Linked DNA regions of Homo sapiens: region 2 is linked to region 1. The links come from fine-mapping of genetic effects on gene expression. A gene starts in region 1. The other region holds a variant in brackets. All regions are shown on one strand. Distances are between the middles of the regions. Region 1 holds the start of FZD10-AS1 (FZD10 antisense RNA 1). Region 2 has its middle 41 kb from the start of FZD10-AS1.

Region 1 (10,115 bases):
GCCTCCTCTGTCACCCATGCAGGGGCCGCAGGCCTGTGATGAGCTGACCCACTCAGCTCCCAGAACAGGCAAAAGGGTCCCAGGGTGCAGGAGGGAAGCCGAAAGAAAACAGATGGGAAGGGGAGTAATTAAATCAGCACATCCCAAACAGCTAAGGGAGGGGACAAGGAGCAAAGCAATGAAGACCAGGTATGAAGTCTGAACTCACAGAATGGGCACGCGCTTCCGATAAGCTGTCCGCTCAAGCTGTTTGGAATACAAACACCAACCAAAACAACACACGCACACACTCTTTTGTGTCGTGTTTCTGGAATTCTGTGATGTTTCTTTTCTCATATATTCCTCCAAAAACAGTCCAGTACAGAATTGCAGGTTGAAGCACTGTGAATAGGCTCTAGGTTTGCCCCAGGTTAAGGGTTAATTTGTTGAGTTTCAGAACAGGTAGGCGACGCCCTCCTGGATTTTAAACAGATAACGTCCTTGCCATGTAAGAGCACTTAGAAGGCTGGCTTTATCTCTTTAAAAAAAAAATATATATATATATATACACACACACACACACACATATATACACACACACATATATATACACACACATATATACACACACACATACACACACACATATATACACACACATATACACACACATATATACACACACATATATACACACATATATACACACATATATACACACACATATATATACACACACATATACACACACATACACACACATATATACACACACATATATACACACACATATATACACACACATATATATACACACACACACACATATATACACACACTATATATATATATATGATTGTGTTTGTTGTTGTTGCAGTTGCAGAGATGAAAAAGAAATCTGTGTCTTTAAATGAGGAGGGGCTGCGTAAGGAGGCTTGGGCAGCAAAAAGGCTAATACGCTGTGGAAGAGAAGGAGTTTAATCTAATTTAGTTGGAGGGTGTCTGTCTGCGGTGTTGTTTTTTGGAGTGTGGGAATAGAGGCGGGAAGCTGCCCCCTTGAATGGTCCCTCCTGAGCCAGGAGCAGTGGGGAGCCAGTCGACGCCAGCGATCCAAAGCCCGGCCTTGAAAGAGGATTAAATCAATGCTCTGATTTGCAATTCACACTAGTGCACCCCGTGGAACCTTTGGTAATATTTCAAACCACATTTCAAGGGAAGTGGCCTTAAAATAGCTGCCTAAATTGTGCTGGAGCCACACTGGACACCCCACTCATCCACTTTAGGATGGGGGTGCTTCGGGGTTCATTTCTCACCTTCCCCCAAACCTCCACATCTCACAGCCAGTGTTTTTAGGCAGAATTAAAACTTTTGCGCCTGTTGAATTCGCTGCGACTTGCATGGCCTTTCTGGTGGTACAAACTGTGTTTTCTTTGCTAAGTATCACTTCAGATCACTAAAGGTATTTTCCCTGGAGAAAAAGATGGGGGCACGCCACGGGGAGCATGCCTACTTGATCAGAAAACATAATTTTTTGTGCATGTTTTATATCTGATAAGTTTCTGCAGAAACTTGATACTAGATGAGGTCAGAGAAAACAAGGTCTATTCACATCAGACTTCCCTGCATGTGAAGCAATTATTGGTAAATAGATCAGTTTTCATTCTCATACTTGAAGGTAGAATTGGAAATGTCCCGGACTAAATACAAACATTGACGACACGAGAAGACAAGAGAAGAAACACAAGAATCACTTACGTGGATCCTCACACTTGAATGTACCAAGAGAGGTGATTCAAGCAGCAGCTACTGAAAGGCGTTGCGACAGCCTGAACCACTTTTTATCTCAACATTCACCAGCACGATTTTACTTCTGTTTATGAGCTTTCTTCCTATGCCACCAGTTTACTCTTGCAATTAGCTTGTAACATGCTAAGCTTATGGTTTAATTTCTTTCTGTTGCTGAAAGACTCAGTACTTTTTTATCTTAAAGAGATTATTTGGGTTTTCTCTAATCCCATTTCAGAAAACCTCGCACAGTGCTTATAATTTCCATTGACTATTACATAATAAGAAAAGATACAACTTTGATTTTTAGCAATATCCGTGTCAAAGTACTTTTATACTTTTGACTTTGTGAGTTTAAATGGAATGAAACTGGGCCTCTCTTTCAATTCCCCTCCACCTCCAAAAAATATTTAGTTCTTGTTCAAAACACTGCCTGACTCCTGAAATATTCTCTCTCAAAAACCTCATACTTTCCCTGGTGAACGTTTGCAAGAACCTGAAGGCGGATAATGTTTACTGATAGCTTTCCGATAGACAGACATTTTTAGGTGGTTGGGGGTAAAAACATATTCCTTGTCTCTGCACGTTATGTGAAATCATGTTTAATTATAAAGTTTCATTAAAAATCTTTGCTCAAAATTTTAGAAGCCTAATAAGATTTCCATTAATTTAAACATATCACTATTCCCACGACGGCTCCAAAGCTTTCTTTTCCGTCTTTCATCCATGGTTAAATATGTAAATAAAATGTCTAAAGTCATTCTTCAAAGAAGACAAAAGAAAAAAGAGCTGAGGGAAAGACAGCCATAAAATTCCTCCCAATTCTCCATAACATTTGCCAGAGGGGGGTCGGTTGCCAGCCAGGGCTGAGCAGCGGGGGACCCCGGCTGCTCCTTAGACTCACACATCTCAAATCCCACACACAGGAAAAAAAATAAAATAAAATATCTTTTCAGCTGGGGCCATCAAAAGAGCCTTTTCATTTATTAGTTACAGACTTATCTTCCAGTTGCTGATTTCTCAGAACCCTCATTTCTCTATAATAAAGTCTATTTGTTGGTTTCCATCTCAGCTGGACAGGGCGAAGCACTTCTGCAGACATTTTTATAAAAAACGAGAGAAAAAGGCAATCTGAAGTGGTTATAGCTAAAATAATGGGCCTGAACGTGGCTGAATTAAAACAGCACAGAAAAGATCAATTAGGAGGCACTTTCTCAAATAGCTCACACCCAGCTCCCGGCGTTTGGCTCTCACTCTTGCACTAAATATTTCTAATAGTTGCTGAGGGAGAGACACAAAAAGGAAAAGAAGGAAAATAGGGCCCAGGAAGGACCTTTGCCAGGAAAATTCTAGAAAAGCCAAGTGATTTCCGCTGAATTAATTTTAATTTAAAGGTCCTGAAAAATTACTCACTAGACAAAAAACAACAACAACAAAAAAAAAAACACTATAATAAAAATGGCAGTCTTTCAAAAATAAAATCATGCAACTTTTCACTTGGGAAATAACACAGTTGAAGGTGGTGTTCTAACTGCCCGGAGTTTCTACCTTCTTTTTCACTTTCTCCCTCACCCCGACTTCCTCCAGCACCTCCTAGTGAGACCCAGGACACCCAGGGACAGCGACCCAGGGGTGGGTGCCTGAACCTGCCTATTAATTCTGGGATTCTGGGCGCTCAAATGTCTGTTGAACGGATGAATGAATGAGTGGAAAGGTGAGATTTCCCCAAGTTTCTTACCGATGTAAAAATTGTAGGGCTTGTTTTAATTAAAAGCCAATACTCTCCGAGGAAGTGGCCCCCTCCTGCACGGCGTGCAGAAAGCTGGTCAGTGAGGGGGGTTCCTGGCGGGCCCCATCTCCTTCCCGGGCGCTTCCTAGGGAGACCTTGCCCCGTGCGCAGCGTCCCCACCGCGGGGGCCCGTGCAGCCGCCCCCCACGCCGGGTGGAGCGCCGCCAACGCGGGAAGCCCCAGCACTGCCTCCAAAGATGTCCGCACACTCCACCCTGCTCCCTGGAACTATCCTCAAACGGGCAGGGGGCAAGCGAGGCCGGTGGACGCGGGACTCGCTCCTCTGACCTCTCCCCGGCCCCCCGGGAGGTAGCGGGAGATTGCACACGCGATCCTGCGAGTTTCCGAACTTTGGAAGATCGTGACCCGGAGAGACCCTGGGAGGAGAGGGCCGGCCACCTCCTAGGGGTGCTGTTTTTTTAAGGGTCAACCCAGGACGCTACGGGAAGCACCTGGCGCATCCTTGGGAACAGTGGGGCTTGGCGGTGGGCGCCCACCGCGAACGCCCTGGGCGGGGGAAGGGAATGGCGGGGGGACGTCGTGTCCTAAGTGACCCCGTCACAGACCCGCCCCAATCCGAGGGGGGATGAGCTCAGAGGACCTGCCCAGGACGCTCCTTCTCCACTTTCCAGGAAAACCGAGCGGCGTGCGCGCCTCCGTGTCCTCGCGGGAGCTGGGGGTCCCCGGGCAGGCGCTGACGCGCTCCTCCCACGACCCACTCCATCCCACCCTACTCCGGGTCCTCCTGCGGGGCTGCAGCCAAGGAGGGCGCTGGCCGGGCACATCACTCGCCAAATCACATAAATACCCCACGAGCGAATGACTTCCTATAATAAATAAACTCAGCCGCCAAGAAGGCATCTCCAGCCCTGCTGGCGCGAGGCCCCGGCTCTGCGGCTTCGGAGGGGGCGGGGGTCACCGCGGTACAAACCAAGCCCGCACTTCCCGCGGGGTGGGAGGCGGTGTTCAAAGTCCCGGGACGCTTCCCGCCCCTCCCCCTTCCCGCCTTCTTAGAGGAGACCTCGGATGAGCGGCCCTAAAATCCGGATTCTCGAGCCCCTCCCCCTCCCCTTAGCTCGTCTCTTTGAAATTTCAAAGAAAATCCCTCCTCGGAGCCCGGAGCCCGGGGCTGGTAGCACCTCCCCAGCCTCAGGAAGATGCGGGCAGGTTTACAAGCAAGGGCCTACTTTATGGCCCAGGCTATAAAACGCAAATCCCACCTCCCTTTGAAAGCGCCCTCCGCCCGGGACTCACCATAAAAGGAAGAGAAGATGCACCCCGCGCCCCTCGCCGCGGACCACCCCCAAACCCCTTCTCCCGCCAGTCCCCGAACTTCCCGTAACCTCGGCGTCCTCGGGGTGCCGGGGACCATCCCGGGGACCGCCGGGAAAGGGGGCGCCGGCGGAGAGGATAGCGAGAGGCAAAGTTGGAGGCCAGGCAGAGAGAGGGCGAGGAGAGGCGGGCGGGACTGCCGGGGAGGGTCGCAGCGCGCAGAGCCCCGCGCGCCAGGCGGGCTGTCCCGGGGCTGGCGGGCGACGCGGGCGGGACTAGGCGCTGCGCCCCCCGCAGGCTGGGCTGCAGGCCGGGGGGGATCGGCCCCCGCGGGGCCCGGGAGCCCGCGGCGGGGCGGCGGGGAGGAGGCTGCCCCGGGCCGCTGCGCTTTCTCATGCAAAGCAGCGGCGGGGCGGGGCGCGCGGCCCGGGGGCGGGGCCTGTCAGCGCTCGGCTTTTCTGCCCCCCTTTGCCTTTTTGCGAGTCTTCTCATCCCGGGACGCAAACCTCGAAACAGCTGCCGGCTGGTCCCGGCCGAGGCCGGCGCAGGGAGGGAGGAGCCGCCCGGGCTGTGGGGGCGCCGCGAGCTGGGCCGGCCTCGGTGTGCCCGCGCCGCCAGCCCGCTCCAGACGCGCCACCTGGGCGCTCCAAGAAGAGGCCGAAGTTTGCCGCGGCCGTGAGTTGGAGCTCGCGCCGGGCCGCTGCGCCGGGAGCTCCGGGGGCTTCCCTCGCTTCCCGGTATTGTTTGCAAACTTTGCTGCTCTCCGCCGCGGCCCCCAACTCGGCGGACGCCGGGCGCGGAGAGCCGAGCCGGGGGCGCTGTGCGCAGCGCTCGGGCCAGGCCGGGCGGGCATGGGCGGGGGCCCGAGCAGGGGTGGAGAGCCGGGGCCAGCAGCAGCCCGTGCCCGGGAGCGGCGGCGCTGAGGGGCGCGGAGCTCCCCGCGAGGACACGTCCAACGCCAGCATGCAGCGCCCGGGCCCCCGCCTGTGGCTGGTCCTGCAGGTGATGGGCTCGTGCGCCGCCATCAGCTCCATGGACATGGAGCGCCCGGGCGACGGCAAATGCCAGCCCATCGAGATCCCGATGTGCAAGGACATCGGCTACAACATGACTCGTATGCCCAACCTGATGGGCCACGAGAACCAGCGCGAGGCAGCCATCCAGTTGCACGAGTTCGCGCCGCTGGTGGAGTACGGCTGCCACGGCCACCTCCGCTTCTTCCTGTGCTCGCTGTACGCGCCGATGTGCACCGAGCAGGTCTCTACCCCCATCCCCGCCTGCCGGGTCATGTGCGAGCAGGCCCGGCTCAAGTGCTCCCCGATTATGGAGCAGTTCAACTTCAAGTGGCCCGACTCCCTGGACTGCCGGAAACTCCCCAACAAGAACGACCCCAACTACCTGTGCATGGAGGCGCCCAACAACGGCTCGGACGAGCCCACCCGGGGCTCGGGCCTGTTCCCGCCGCTGTTCCGGCCGCAGCGGCCCCACAGCGCGCAGGAGCACCCGCTGAAGGACGGGGGCCCCGGGCGCGGCGGCTGCGACAACCCGGGCAAGTTCCACCACGTGGAGAAGAGCGCGTCGTGCGCGCCGCTCTGCACGCCCGGCGTGGACGTGTACTGGAGCCGCGAGGACAAGCGCTTCGCAGTGGTCTGGCTGGCCATCTGGGCGGTGCTGTGCTTCTTCTCCAGCGCCTTCACCGTGCTCACCTTCCTCATCGACCCGGCCCGCTTCCGCTACCCCGAGCGCCCCATCATCTTCCTCTCCATGTGCTACTGCGTCTACTCCGTGGGCTACCTCATCCGCCTCTTCGCCGGCGCCGAGAGCATCGCCTGCGACCGGGACAGCGGCCAGCTCTATGTCATCCAGGAGGGACTGGAGAGCACCGGCTGCACGCTGGTCTTCCTGGTCCTCTACTACTTCGGCATGGCCAGCTCGCTGTGGTGGGTGGTCCTCACGCTCACCTGGTTCCTGGCCGCCGGCAAGAAGTGGGGCCACGAGGCCATCGAAGCCAACAGCAGCTACTTCCACCTGGCAGCCTGGGCCATCCCGGCGGTGAAGACCATCCTGATCCTGGTCATGCGCAGGGTGGCGGGGGACGAGCTCACCGGGGTCTGCTACGTGGGCAGCATGGACGTCAACGCGCTCACCGGCTTCGTGCTCATTCCCCTGGCCTGCTACCTGGTCATCGGCACGTCCTTCATCCTCTCGGGCTTCGTGGCCCTGTTCCACATCCGGAGGGTGATGAAGACGGGCGGCGAGAACACGGACAAGCTGGAGAAGCTCATGGTGCGTATCGGGCTCTTCTCTGTGCTGTACACCGTGCCGGCCACCTGTGTGATCGCCTGCTACTTTTACGAACGCCTCAACATGGATTACTGGAAGATCCTGGCGGCGCAGCACAAGTGCAAAATGAACAACCAGACTAAAACGCTGGACTGCCTGATGGCCGCCTCCATCCCCGCCGTGGAGATCTTCATGGTGAAGATCTTTATGCTGCTGGTGGTGGGGATCACCAGCGGGATGTGGATTTGGACCTCCAAGACTCTGCAGTCCTGGCAGCAGGTGTGCAGCCGTAGGTTAAAGAAGAAGAGCCGGAGAAAACCGGCCAGCGTGATCACCAGCGGTGGGATTTACAAAAAAGCCCAGCATCCCCAGAAAACTCACCACGGGAAATATGAGATCCCTGCCCAGTCGCCCACCTGCGTGTGAACAGGGCTGGAGGGAAGGGCACAGGGGCGCCCGGAGCTAAGATGTGGTGCTTTTCTTGGTTGTGTTTTTCTTTCTTCTTCTTCTTTTTTTTTTTTTATAAAAGCAAAAGAGAAATACATAAAAAAGTGTTTACCCTGAAATTCAGGATGCTGTGATACACTGAAAGGAAAAATGTACTTAAAGGGTTTTGTTTTGTTTTGGTTTTCCAGCGAAGGGAAGCTCCTCCAGTGAAGTAGCCTCTTGTGTAACTAATTTGTGGTAAAGTAGTTGATTCAGCCCTCAGAAGAAAACTTTTGTTTAGAGCCCTCCCTAAATATACATCTGTGTATTTGAGTTGGCTTTGCTACCCATTTACAAATAAGAGGACAGATAACTGCTTTGCAAATTCAAGAGCCTCCCCTGGGTTAACAAATGAGCCATCCCCAGGGCCCACCCCCAGGAAGGCCACAGTGCTGGGCGGCATCCCTGCAGAGGAAAGACAGGACCCGGGGCCCGCCTCACACCCCAGTGGATTTGGAGTTGCTTAAAATAGACTCCGGCCTTCACCAATAGTCTCTCTGCAAGACAGAAACCTCCATCAAACCTCACATTTGTGAACTCAAACGATGTGCAATACATTTTTTTCTCTTTCCTTGAAAATAAAAAGAGAAACAAGTATTTTGCTATATATAAAGACAACAAAAGAAATCTCCTAACAAAAGAACTAAGAGGCCCAGCCCTCAGAAACCCTTCAGTGCTACATTTTGTGGCTTTTTAATGGAAACCAAGCCAATGTTATAGACGTTTGGACTGATTTGTGGAAAGGAGGGGGGAAGAGGGAGAAGGATCATTCAAAAGTTACCCAAAGGGCTTATTGACTCTTTCTATTGTTAAACAAATGATTTCCACAAACAGATCAGGAAGCACTAGGTTGGCAGAGACACTTTGTCTAGTGTATTCTCTTCACAGTGCCAGGAAAGAGTGGTTTCTGCGTGTGTATATTTGTAATATATGATATTTTTCATGCTCCACTATTTTATTAAAAATAAAATATGTTCTTTAGTTTGCTGCTAGTCCCTGGTTCATGGTGAGGTTTCCCTTCTCTGTGTGTGGAGAGACTACAGGACACTTTCTCCCTTTGCTTTTTAAGCAAATTCTGGGGTTGTGCTTCTAGCCAGAGAGTACTGGTTATCTGTATAAAATTGCAGATCAGAGGATTCCAAGATTGGAAGAATCATTCACTTGTGAGTTTCTGAGGAACTGCAGTCAGGCAATGTGTGAAGTTGGAAGTCGTTTCTGTGACTGTTGGTAGCTGGACATGAGGGCTTAGTTGTAGACACACATCACCAAGGAGAGCCTCACCACTAAGCGTGGACCCACTCATGAGCCTGGATTAGCCAGTTTTAATATATTCAGAGAGTAGAGCCAACCGATTAGGAGAATTAAATCATCTGTATTCAATTGACCTGCTAGGCTCAAATGGTACCTAGACAGAGCTGTATACATCAGCCCAAAGTGTGCTGGCTTTGCAGTGACTCTGAACTATGAAGACATTTACAAAACAGATTATAGACCTGGACGGGATAAAATACCTGCTAAGGGTGGCGAATCCTTAAGAGGAAGTTAAGCAGCTTTGGAACTTCATGGTACTTGGTTCTTCTCCAGGGTTTCCTGTTAGAACTGGGTAGCTGTAAAGAACTGCCCCAGGTCTGCTGGTCAAAGGCACAGCTACACTCAAGTTCCAGCCAGAAGGAAGCAAGGGCACAGTGCAGTCCTACTGTGGTGAGGACTCTATTAATATAAAGCAAGCCAAGCTGCCCCTGGGGCCATGCTTTTGTCCAGCTCCAAGTTAAACAAGGAGCTCTGGAAAACTTGGAGCATGGATGACACGCTTACCAACGAGGAGGAGAGCCTGGAGCTAGTGCAGTCTGTTTTCTGAAGAGGGTGTTCAGAACTTCAGCCTGGTAAACATAAGATCACCCATCAACACTAGGGCTGGAAACAGGCTTACATTGGCTTTGAGGGGCTACTGCACTTGGCCGTGAATATTTGCAGGGCACAGGAGCAGGCAGATCGGTGGTTTGGGATCAAGTTTGACAAACGGAGGAAACACCAGCTAGGTAGGCAAAGTAAAAGAATGCAAGATCCCAAAGAGCTTTCAGTGCATTAAAAAAGAAGGCAGAAAAGCTTCAGAAATGCCCCCAAATAAAATTTCTTTGTTGATTGTTTTCGCCTAGTCCCCCAAAAGACTACATAGAAATATTGATGTCTCTGTGCATGTATGGGTATAGCGTTTCCTTTTTGTCACTCTTAGGGAAAATGAAAATAACATATTTGGAATAGAACTTTCAAAAAGTCCAGAAGGGTAACATTGTCCGGATGCTGCTGTGAGCCACAAGGCTAGATATAACACAAAGACATTTGGTTCTAAAATTCCTGGACTACAGCAGCTTCAGACCTGCCCATGCTCAGGTGTGTAGGCTCGAAAATGTGGTCCCAAGGAAAGTCATATTCAACAACATACCTAAGAGCCTTTGTTGTTAGTTATCCCTGAATGTGTCTCACTGTGGATCCATCCCAGAAATGACTGATCTTGTTTACG
Region 2 (10,115 bases), 41 kb before region 1:
ACACGGCCATCTCAGAGCCAGAGCAAGGGCGGTGCGGGCTGGGGTCTGCGGTCCCCACTGGAAGGTCACCAGGGGCCCAGGGCCTGCTCTCAAGTTTGTCACAGTCTGTTTAGAAAACAAAATATGGGGCCAGGCACGGTGGCTCACACCTGTAATCCCATCACTTTGGGAGGCCGAAGCGGGTGGATCACTTCAGGCCAGGAGTTCGAGACCAGCCTGGCCTACATGCTGAAACTCTGTCTCTGCTAAAAATACAAAAATTAGCCAGGCGTGGTGGCGCATGCCTGTAATCCCAGCTACTCGGGAGGCTGAGGCAGGAGAATAGCTTGAACCTGGGAGGTGGAGGTTGCGGTGACCTGAGATCGAGTCACTACACTCCAGCCTGGGTGACAGAGCAAGATTCCATCTCAAAAAATAATAATAATAAATAAGTAAATAAATAAAAAGAACATGAAATATGGGCCAAAATAAGATTTCAAAATTGTAGTGTATTTTATTTTCCTGCACTCAGAAAGTGTGAGAGTTGACTTGACTTTGCCCAACCTGGAACACCAGGGTTTCTTCAAAAGAAGCAGTGGTGTGCTCTCAGGAAGGTCTGAAGCCAACGGGGCTGGAAGGAGAGCGATTTGCTACTTATACCTCGAAGATTTAATTCTGTTTGAAGGCCACCGCTCCAGTGCCACTTCCTAGAGATAATCGTGCGGTTTATAAGGAACTATGAGACTCATTTTAGAAAGCGCTTCCAGGAGGCTGAAGCTGGGGGTCTGGGAGTTTGACGGGCCCTTCCTCCCACCTGCAGGGGCTGCAGGCGCAACCTCATTGAGGGATGAACAACCTTCTCTGGACGTGAAGCTGGGTGGGAGGGTGGGGGACGAGAAGAGGCTGCAGAGGAGGCGGGGGCTCTGAATCCACCCAGCCAGGCCAGCCCTGTCTCTGTGACTACAAAGAATGTTCTGGAAGGGTTAGGGTGCTGTTTGCCTCAGGGGAGAGGGCGTGGTGGGAGGGCTGCTGGGCTGGCAGAGTACCAGGGGAATTCCCAGGAACTCCTCTGGCATCTCTGAGACCCAGCAGGGCAGAGGGTGGGCGGGGCTGCATGGCGCAGGGGCTCCCAGACCTGAGCTGTGGAGGTGGGGCCCTGTCTGCCCCCTCACTTTGGAAACCTAGTAGGGTTTGTTTGCTTGTTTTTTGTTGTTGTTGTTGTTGTTGTTGTGTGTGTGTGTGTTTTTTTTTAAAGAAATTTGCTGTTTTCCAGGTAGCTTCATAGAAAGCCAGGGTCTCTTTCCTCTATAGTTAGGTTGTTTACATTGCAAAAGCCTAATCCTCTTGCTAGGTTGATATTGTGTCTCGTGGGCTCCTTAATGAAAAGCATTTGTCCAGGATTATTCCTTCACAGCAAATGAGAGCCTCCAAGACAGCTCCACTCTGAGAACCGGCCTTGTGGCTGGGGCACGAGCACCAGGGGCCCCAAAGAGGGGGTCAGGCTCGAGCCACTTGTGTACGTGTGCTACTCCTGGCCTGAGCACCCCAGGCTGGCTCTGAAATCTAGGGTGAGCAGAAAGGGAGGCAGATTCTCACTGTAAGAAGCACGGGGGAGAGACCCCATTCGAGTGGGCTGTTTCCCTTTTGGTTTTGAGCCTGTAGTTTCCCCCAAAGGATGTCCACATCCTAATCCCTGGAATCTCTGGACATGTCACCTGACATAGAAAAAGGGACTTTGCTGTTGTGATTAAGGACTCTGGGATGAGGAGATGATCCTGGATAATGTAATCACAGGAGTCCTTGAGGAGGAAGGCAGGAAGGTCAGAGGAGGAAGCAAGAGGCCAGAGTGATCCCAGGAAGGGGTCGAAAGCTGCGTTATGCAGGCAGCTCCAGAAACTGCAAAAGGCTGGAAACAGACTCTCCTGGGAGCCTTTGGAAGGAGTGCAGCCAGCCCTGATTTCAGCCCTGAAAGACTCATTGCAGACTTCCGGCCTCCAGAGCTGTAGGAAAATGAAGTTGGTTGCTTTTTTGTTTTTGCTTCTAGAGGCAGGGTCTCGCTCTGTGGCCCAGGCTGAAGTGCAACAATGGTGGCAATAGTGCAATGACGGCTCATGGCAACCTCAACCTCCTGGGCTCAAGTTATCCTCCCTCCTCAGCCTCCCGAGTAGCTGGGACCACAGGTGTGCACCTCCAAGCCTGGCTAATTTTTCTTTTTTTATTTTTTGTAGAGACGGGGTCTTGCTGTGTTGTCCAGGCTGGACTTGAACTCCTGAGCTCAAATGATCCTCCTTCCTCAGCCTCCCCAAGTGCTGGGATTACAGGCGTGAGCCACTGTACCAGGTCAAGTTGTGTTGTTTTAAGCCATCCAGTTGGTGGTTATTTGTTACAGCAGCCACAGGAGACCCACGCGGCCAGAGTCCCTCTCCTGCCCTGCCCCCGATGCCAGTCAGCCACTAGGCTGGGAGGGTCCTGCCCTGGGAGAGTCCGGCATGAACACAGGGACCAGGTGCAGCAACTGGACTCCAGACAGGAAGCACTCTGTCCTGAGAGCTGCCCACACCCAGATTAGGGTTTGGATCCCCCAAGAAACCCCCATCCAATCTCTTCCCCGCCTCCTTTGGCCCCCAGCAGACCTGCTTCTCACTCACGTTCCCTTTCTGCCCCTGCTTCAGCTTTTTCCTAGACCGCCTGCCTCCAGCAGAACGAATCAAGAAGATTACAGGGCAGGCGGGTGTGAGAGCAGCTCCTGGGGCGAAACTAGACGAAAATCCCCTGGCCCTGTTTCCCCAAACTTCCCTTTGATTTTTAATTTTTTTCAAAAGTTTCTTCATCACAAAATTTCCGGATGTGACATCCCTGGCAGCTCACACAGCAAGTTTTGGCAAAAACCAATGTCTTACTTCTCGCTGGGCTGCAAGAAATTAGAGTAATCGCCCCCAACACACAAAGGCATGAACTCCCGATGCAATTAAGGAGAGGTGAGGGGATCAAAGGAATCATGGCTGTGGATGAACTCTCCTTCTCTCGTTTTCCCTTAAAAGTCACGAGAGGCAACTTGCAGTCTAGTTAGCTTGGGGGCACCCGGGGTTGGGGTGTAGCAATGTGGGCAGGAGATGGTATCCTTGGCCTCAGCAGATGGGGCCCCTAAGGTTGTACTTTTTGGCGTGGCTCTGCCAGAGATTATATGAGCTCCAAGTTCTGGAGCTCCCTTCCAGCCCCGCTTTTCACTTTGGCGCAAGAGGGCAGTTAGGGCAAGTTCCTAGTTGTCCCCAAGGCTCCTCTGCCCCTCAACTGTGACGTGGGATGGTGATACCACCTAGCTTGCAGGGCTGGGTGCAGGTTTAAGGAGGCACGATTGAAACCTGGTGCCTGGCACAGAGAAAGCTCAAAAATGCAGGGTGCCACCCTTCATGTCATCCTCACCTCCACCCCATCGGCACCGCCTCCCACGCAGCCCTCCTCAGTGACGACGGCGGGTTTGGCTTCATCCCCTTCCATGAAGATGAGCGCGGCTCCCTCTCCTTTGTGTTGGATCTGGGGCCCTGGGGAGAGCTGGGCACACGGCTGGTGTGTAGTAGCGGCTCACTGCTGGGACACTGCTGTCTGCTGAGGGTTGCTCACTTGGCTGTGGTTGCTGCTCTCAGGCCTCTCATGGAGCCACCGTGACACACCCCCCGTGACACACACACCCCGTGACACACACCCCCCGTGACACATCCCCCGTGACACACACCCCGTGACACACACCCCGTGACACACCCCCCGTGACACACACCCTGTGACACACACCCCGTGACACACCCCCCGTGACACACCCCTCCAAGCCAGGGTGCAAGTTACATCCCATCGCCAGGCCCAGCACCATCCACACAGCAGCCCCACACGTGGGGAGCGTCGCTGTGGTTATGGCCGACTTGCCGTGTAGGCTAAGATTGTTCCCCTTACACACACAGACATCCTCTCTCTCACACCCTCACGCAATCCCACACTCGTATTCACTCCCACATTTACACACGTACACGCTCACAGGCATGCATACAGTGGGGCATTCATTTACACACACACCCATGCACACACACACATCCTCACACACACCCACATGCATCTTCACACACTGTGAAACACACACCCACACCCACACACTCTACGGGGGTCACACAGGCCTCTCCAGCTGCGCCCTCCCTGCACCGTGCAGACCCCCAGGTCTGGCCTCAGAGGGGACACGCAAGCCCCACTGGCAGCAGACCTCCGGTGTCCCGTCCCCTGTCTGGGCTGGCGAAAGTGCAGGTAGCTCCTTGGTCGCCTGACCCAGTGCCTTGGATGCTGCCCGTGTGCTGGGCCGGAGGACACCATTCCCTCGCGCACAACAAGCCCTGTGAGGCATCACGGAGGGGACGGGAGCTCACACCTCAACCTAGAGACCCCGTCTACTCACAACCACTTTTAAGGAATGCAGCTAAACAGGGGGCTCAGATCCCTGTTCAGGGCCCTTCTCACGATCCCACCGTAACAGCCCAGCCCTGCGGGTGCCTGGCTGCAGTCTCCTTCTCCCCAGCACTTCCAGACCTGGCAGCCCGGCCCAATACCAGCGGCCGTGGGGCCTGACCTGGACTGAACCCCGGAGCCCGGACAGGCTGGTCACTGCAGGGCGGGGCCTGAATTCTGCAGCTGCTCCTGAGGCCAAAAGCTGTTCTGAGGGTGGGGTGGGCTGCCAGGCTCCACCGACGCCCTCCCGCACTGCAGGCGCCTCTCTGGAGCCTCACATATGTCCACCATCAGATTCCATGGTCTGCGGTCTGTGGAGACGGTGGGGACCGACTCTCTCAACACCTCTGTGTGAACTGGATCCCCTGGGGGACTGGGGGGAGTAACAGAAAAGCTCACAGAGTGCCCCTGAGCCCAGAGCTGTTTCTGATCTCTCCTTAAAAGCGATCTCCGTGGAAACAGCCCAGATGACCATCAGTGGACGAATAGATACACAACTGTGGTCCATCCACACAACAGAATATCATCCAGTCACAGAAAGGGAGGAAGCGCTGATCCATGCTACAACATGGGTGAACCCCAAAAACATGATAAGAGACGCCGGATACAAAAGGCCACGTAGCATGTGATTTTACCTCCACGGAATGCCCAGAAGAGGCAAAATCTGCAGAGACAGAAAGCAGAGGAGCCAGGGGGAGGAGCTGAGTGTTCGGGAGAGGGGAGTGAGCAGTGACCGATCACAGGTTCAGGCTTTCCTTTGGGGCGATGACAATGTTAGGAAGTCGAGAGAGGTGTTTACACAACCTTGTGAAGATATTAAGTGCCACTGAACTGTGTGCTTTAAAGTCGTTCATTTTATGTTACATGCATTTCAACTCAATTTTTTTAAGTGACCTCTGATTTTTAAAAGACGAGTCAATATTCCCAGT[G/T]ACTCATTTGACCATGGGAAAATCCACTCTTTTATGGGCCAAATGTTTGCAAGGCTAGAGTTCTGTCTGAAATGGAAACTTCATCAACAGCTGGGCATTCGGTGGCCAGGCTTTTACTTGGAAAATTGGACCAGATTTCTTGGCCATCATCTTAATTATGTGTTCGACACAGAGGGACAGAAATTTCTAAATCACAACTTCCTCTGAGTGGAGAAAATCAAGCCCCAAATTCTTAAAGGGATATAGGAAAGCAAGTCTCCCGGCCATGCTTTTTGAGAGGGATGTTGGTGAAGGGCGTTTAGTCCTCCCCATCATAGAAGAGGAGAATCTGGCCACCCAAAATGTGGGAACTGGGTTCTGTGGACTGGGAAGGTTCAAAAAGAGTATCAAAAACGGGGGAGGTTCGCCTTTCCCAACTGCAGCCAGATGGCACACAAGGCTCTCCTGCATGTGCTTCCAGAATGTCTCCAGGCAGACAGAATGTGTCCAAATGCTAGGAGGAAAACAGAGTACAACAGCGTCAATGACCACAGCAGTAATGGAAACCATGCTAATAATCATAATACCCTCTACCAAGCCCAACCCCATGTGTCATCCTACACAGTAGCTAGGACGACATTAGTACCCCATTTCATTCTCCCGTGTCTCAGTCTCTGTATCTGAACAACAGGACAAATAACAGTGTCTACTTCATTATGCTGTCATCATTATTGAATGAAGGTTCAACTCTCCATATTCCATTTTTTAACAAAAGCTTCAACTCACATTTATTGGCAAATGTTGATGTCATCCAGGTCCAGTTCCATGCTGCCAACAGAAGATCCATTCCTTATCTTCCAGCGATGCGCTGTACTTCTGAACAGCTTCGCCTGCATTTGGTAAGCAAGAGTCGTCAGTAGCCTGGAGTCAATGAGAAGTTTACAAAGTTGTTGAGAGGTCAGGCTTTTGTGAATGAATTATAAGAGGATAATACAAAACAAAAATAATAATAAAATGCCCTAGGGAAAAATAATTTATCCCATGCCAACTAGGTCTTGAGAAGGTCATTTCTAAATTACTGTCTCAAACTGAATTATAAACAACTACTGAAGGCAGAGAAAGGGGGGTGGGGAAGCAAGTGTGGACGGGGCGCAGAAGGCTTCAGGAAAGACAAAACCAGGGGGAGGGAGTCAGACTCTGGAAGAGGAGGCTGTAAATCTGTGGGTCTCAGCCTGTTCAGGTTGCTGTAACCAGCTACCATAGACCAGGTGGTTTACAAGCAAGAGAAACTTATTTCACACAGTTCTGAGGCTGGACATCCAAGATAAAGGCAGATTGGTGTCTGCCAAGGGTCCTTCCCACATAGACGCAGGCACCTTGCTGTGTGTTACACGGTGGGAGGGACAAAGGGGCTCCCTTGGGCCTCTTTTCTAAGGGCACTGACCCCATCCACGAGGCTCCACCTTCATGACTGATCACCTCCCAGAGGCTCCACCTCCTAGAACCATTAGCTTGGAGGCGAGAATTTCAACATAGGAATTTTGTGAGGGACACAAACATTTGGACCATGGCATTCTGCCCTCTGCAGAGCTGGCTGAGGTTATAAACTGCCCACTGTGCAGAAAGGACCCGAAGCAGAAAGCATGCCCAGTCTCAGCCAGGATGGAATAGTTACTGCAGCATGGACAAGGAAGGCATGTCAGAAAAAAAAAAAAAAGCCATTGCCATCACCATCGTTATTATCACCATCATCGCTAGCGTTTCCTGAGTGCTTGCTGGTTCCAGAGATGGTGCAAAGTGCCTTGCACGCATCATGTCACTTAATCCTCCCAACAGCCCGGGGACGTGTGTTCCACGGTTACCCCATCTGCTGGATGAGGAAACTGAGGCTCAGGGAGGTTAACAATTTGCCCAACGTCCAACAGCAGCTGGAGAGCCATGGCAAGGCTGAACGGTGAATGCCTGTGCAAGGGAAGCCAGGCTGTCTCCAGGGCTCCCGACAGGGGCTGCGTTTCTGCTGGGAATAATTGCCGGATTCCATTTGCACTAGGATGTGCGAACTCACTGTTGTTCACTAATTCTAAGACACCTTCTTCGTATTTAACACCCTCTAAAGCTGGGGTGCTGTGTCATGGTTTAGTCTTAGATGGCAACAATAATGGAATCAATGGTATCTTAGACTTAATGAAAAGTTGGGTTGCCAGGCCCAAGTTCCTAGAACTGTTAAGTTTTTGTTTTATGGCAGGCATTTATTTTCTTCTTGTGGCCACTAGAGTTTTTTTTAAAAAAAAAAAAAAAAAAAAAGAAGAAGAAGAAGAAGAAGAAACTTCTAGAGCAGGAATGTCCAAAATTTTGGCTTCCCTGGGCCACACTGAGTGTCTTGGGCCACACATAAAATACACAAACACTAACGATAGCTGATGAGCTAAAAAAAAAAAAAAAAAAATCACAAAAATTTCTCATAATGTTTTCAGAAAGTTTACAAATTTGTGTTGGGCTGCATTCAAAGCTGTCCTGGGCCACATGCAGGCCATGGGCCACAGGTTGGACAAGCTTGTTCTAGATAAAGAAAAAAAATGTGTGTGTGTGTGTGTGTGTGTGTGTATACATATATATGGGCTATTAATAAACCACCCAGTTTATGGTGCATTGTTATATAAATAACCTAATGTTCAGATTTCAGATTTTCTATTGCTCTTTAACAAATACAAAATTTAGCAGCTTAAAAACATGGTTTTCTTGCAATTCCATGGGTCTGGAATTCAGCAGGGCTGGGCTGGGTGACTCTTCTTTTCTCCTTGGCCTGGACAGGGCCCATGTGGAGGTATCTGGTTCTGAGAAGAGGCTGTTCCGGAGGGTCCATGTGACTTCACTCACACCCTGGCAGGGAGGGCTGGAAGGCTGGGCTCAGCTAGGACTATGGGCTATCCACATGGCCTCGCCAGCATGCTGGCCTCAGGTAGAAGTATTTCTTCTGTGGTGGCTGAAAGCTCTGGAAGCACGTGTTCCAGGAGACCAGGCAGAGCCGCAGGGCCTATATGGTATAGCCTTGGAGGACATGCATCCTCACCTCCTGACCCTGTGTGGGAGAGGACAGCCTGGATGGTGTAGCCTTGGAGGACATTCATCCTCACCTCCTGACTCTGTGTGGGAGAGAAGGATCTGGATGGTGTAGCCTTGGAGGGCGTGCATCCTCACCTCTTGACTCCATGTGGGAGAGGATGGCCTGGATAGTGTAAACTTGGAAGGTGTGCATTCTTACCTCCTGACTCCATGTGGGAGAGGACGGCCAGGGGGGTGTAGTCATGGAAGGCATGCATCCTTACCTCCTGGAGACGTGCCAATGCCTAGCCTGGAAAGGGTCCCACCTGCCTCCTGACCCCGTTTGGGAGAGGATGGCCTAGAGTGTGTAGTCTTGGAAAGCATGCATCCTCACCTCCTGATTCCGTGTGGGAGAGAACGACCTGGATGGTGTAAACTTGGAAGGTGTGCATTCTTATCTCCTGACTCCGTGTGGGAGAGGACTTCACCAGGGCGCAGGTGCCAGAGGCTCCCACACCAAGGATGAAGATGGTCACCTTCACAACCCGTTCCGACTCACCCAGTGGCTACTGTTGGACACCTACTCTCTGTCAAGCATTTTCCTTGGCAACAAGTAAAAAAGACACTCAAATGATGTCCTCAAGGCCGTTACGCTGCAGTGACATAAGAGGCAAGTGACCTAAGAAAAACAGGATCCTTGGAAATAGTGATAATCACTCTAAAGAATGAAACAGGGGCTGGGGCCTGTGACTCATGCCTCTAATCCCAGCGCCTTGGAAGGCAGGTGGATCGCTTCAGCTCAAGAGTTGGAAACCAGGCCAGGCGCAGTGGCTCACATCTTTAATACCAGCACTTTGGGAGGCCGAGGCAGGTGGATCAGGAGGTCAGGAGTTCAAGACCAGCCTGGCCAACATGGTGAAATCCTGTCTCTACTAAAAATACAAAAAATAGCCAGGTGTTGTGGTGTGCGCCTGTAGGCCCAGCTACTCAGGAGGCTGAGGCAGGAGAATTGCTTGAACCCGGGAGGCAGAGGTTTCAGTGAGCCAAGATTGTGCCACTGCACTCCAGCTTGGACGACAGAGCGAGACTGTCTCAAAAAAAAAAAAAAAAAAAAAAAAGGAGTTGGAAACCAGCCTGACAGACATGGCGAAACCCGTCTCTTTAAAAAGTACAAAAAAATTGGACGTGCTGGCGCGTGCCTGTGGTTCCAGCTACTTGGGGGGCTGAGGCAGGAAAATCGCTTGAACCTGGGAGGTCAAGGCTGCAGTGAGCCAAGATGGCACCATTGCACTCCAGCCTGGGGGACAAAGTGAGACCCTGTCTCAAAAAGAAAAAGAATGAAATAAATAGGAAAACATAGTGGAGCCTGGAATGTTAGAAAGAATGATCACGGAGGCGTCCTGAGGAGGTGACCTGTGACAAGCAATCTGAATGATGGCGGGGAATGGCTGTGGGACTCCCTGGGAAAGTGCATTTGGGGATGGGGAAGAGCACGTGCCAAGGCTGCAGGGTGGAGGAGAGTGGGCTGGAGTCCTCCAGGAACAGAGGATGGGTCTGTGAGGGCCCGGAGTCACGGGGGCTGGGAAAGGGACCAGGAGGAGATCCTCAGGAGGTGAGAAGCCAGACCAGGGGTTCTCAGGGGCCATGGCACAGGGTGTGGATTTTATGCCAGATGCATTGGGACCCATCCTAGCGCCTGCC

Evidence for each region. PIP is the estimated chance that this variant, and not a neighbour inherited with it, causes the effect.
Region 2: its variant is fine-mapped to the expression of FZD10-AS1 in tibial artery (GTEx, PIP above 0.99). The same link has a PIP of 0.9 or more in atrial appendage and subcutaneous fat.

The regions. Positions count from the first base shown.
Region 1 is chr12:130,157,155-130,167,269 of GRCh38, forward strand. It overlaps FZD10-AS1 (FZD10 antisense RNA 1), which reads right to left and starts at 4,524. Exons shown (of 4, transcript NR_033834.1): 1 at 3,503-4,524. FZD10 (frizzled class receptor 10) reads left to right here and starts at 5,310. Exons shown (of 1, transcript NM_007197.4): 1 at 5,310-8,586. The coding sequence starts at 5,789. The coding sequence ends at 7,534. RefSeq lists enhancers at 3,790-4,356, 4,357-4,923, 6,510-7,505, 7,591-8,136.
Region 2 is chr12:130,115,962-130,126,076 of GRCh38, forward strand. No RefSeq gene overlaps it. Among named protein-coding and RNA genes, the nearest start is that of FZD10-AS1, 41 kb to the right of the region's middle. The variant G/T (reference allele first, on the strand shown) is at 5,394.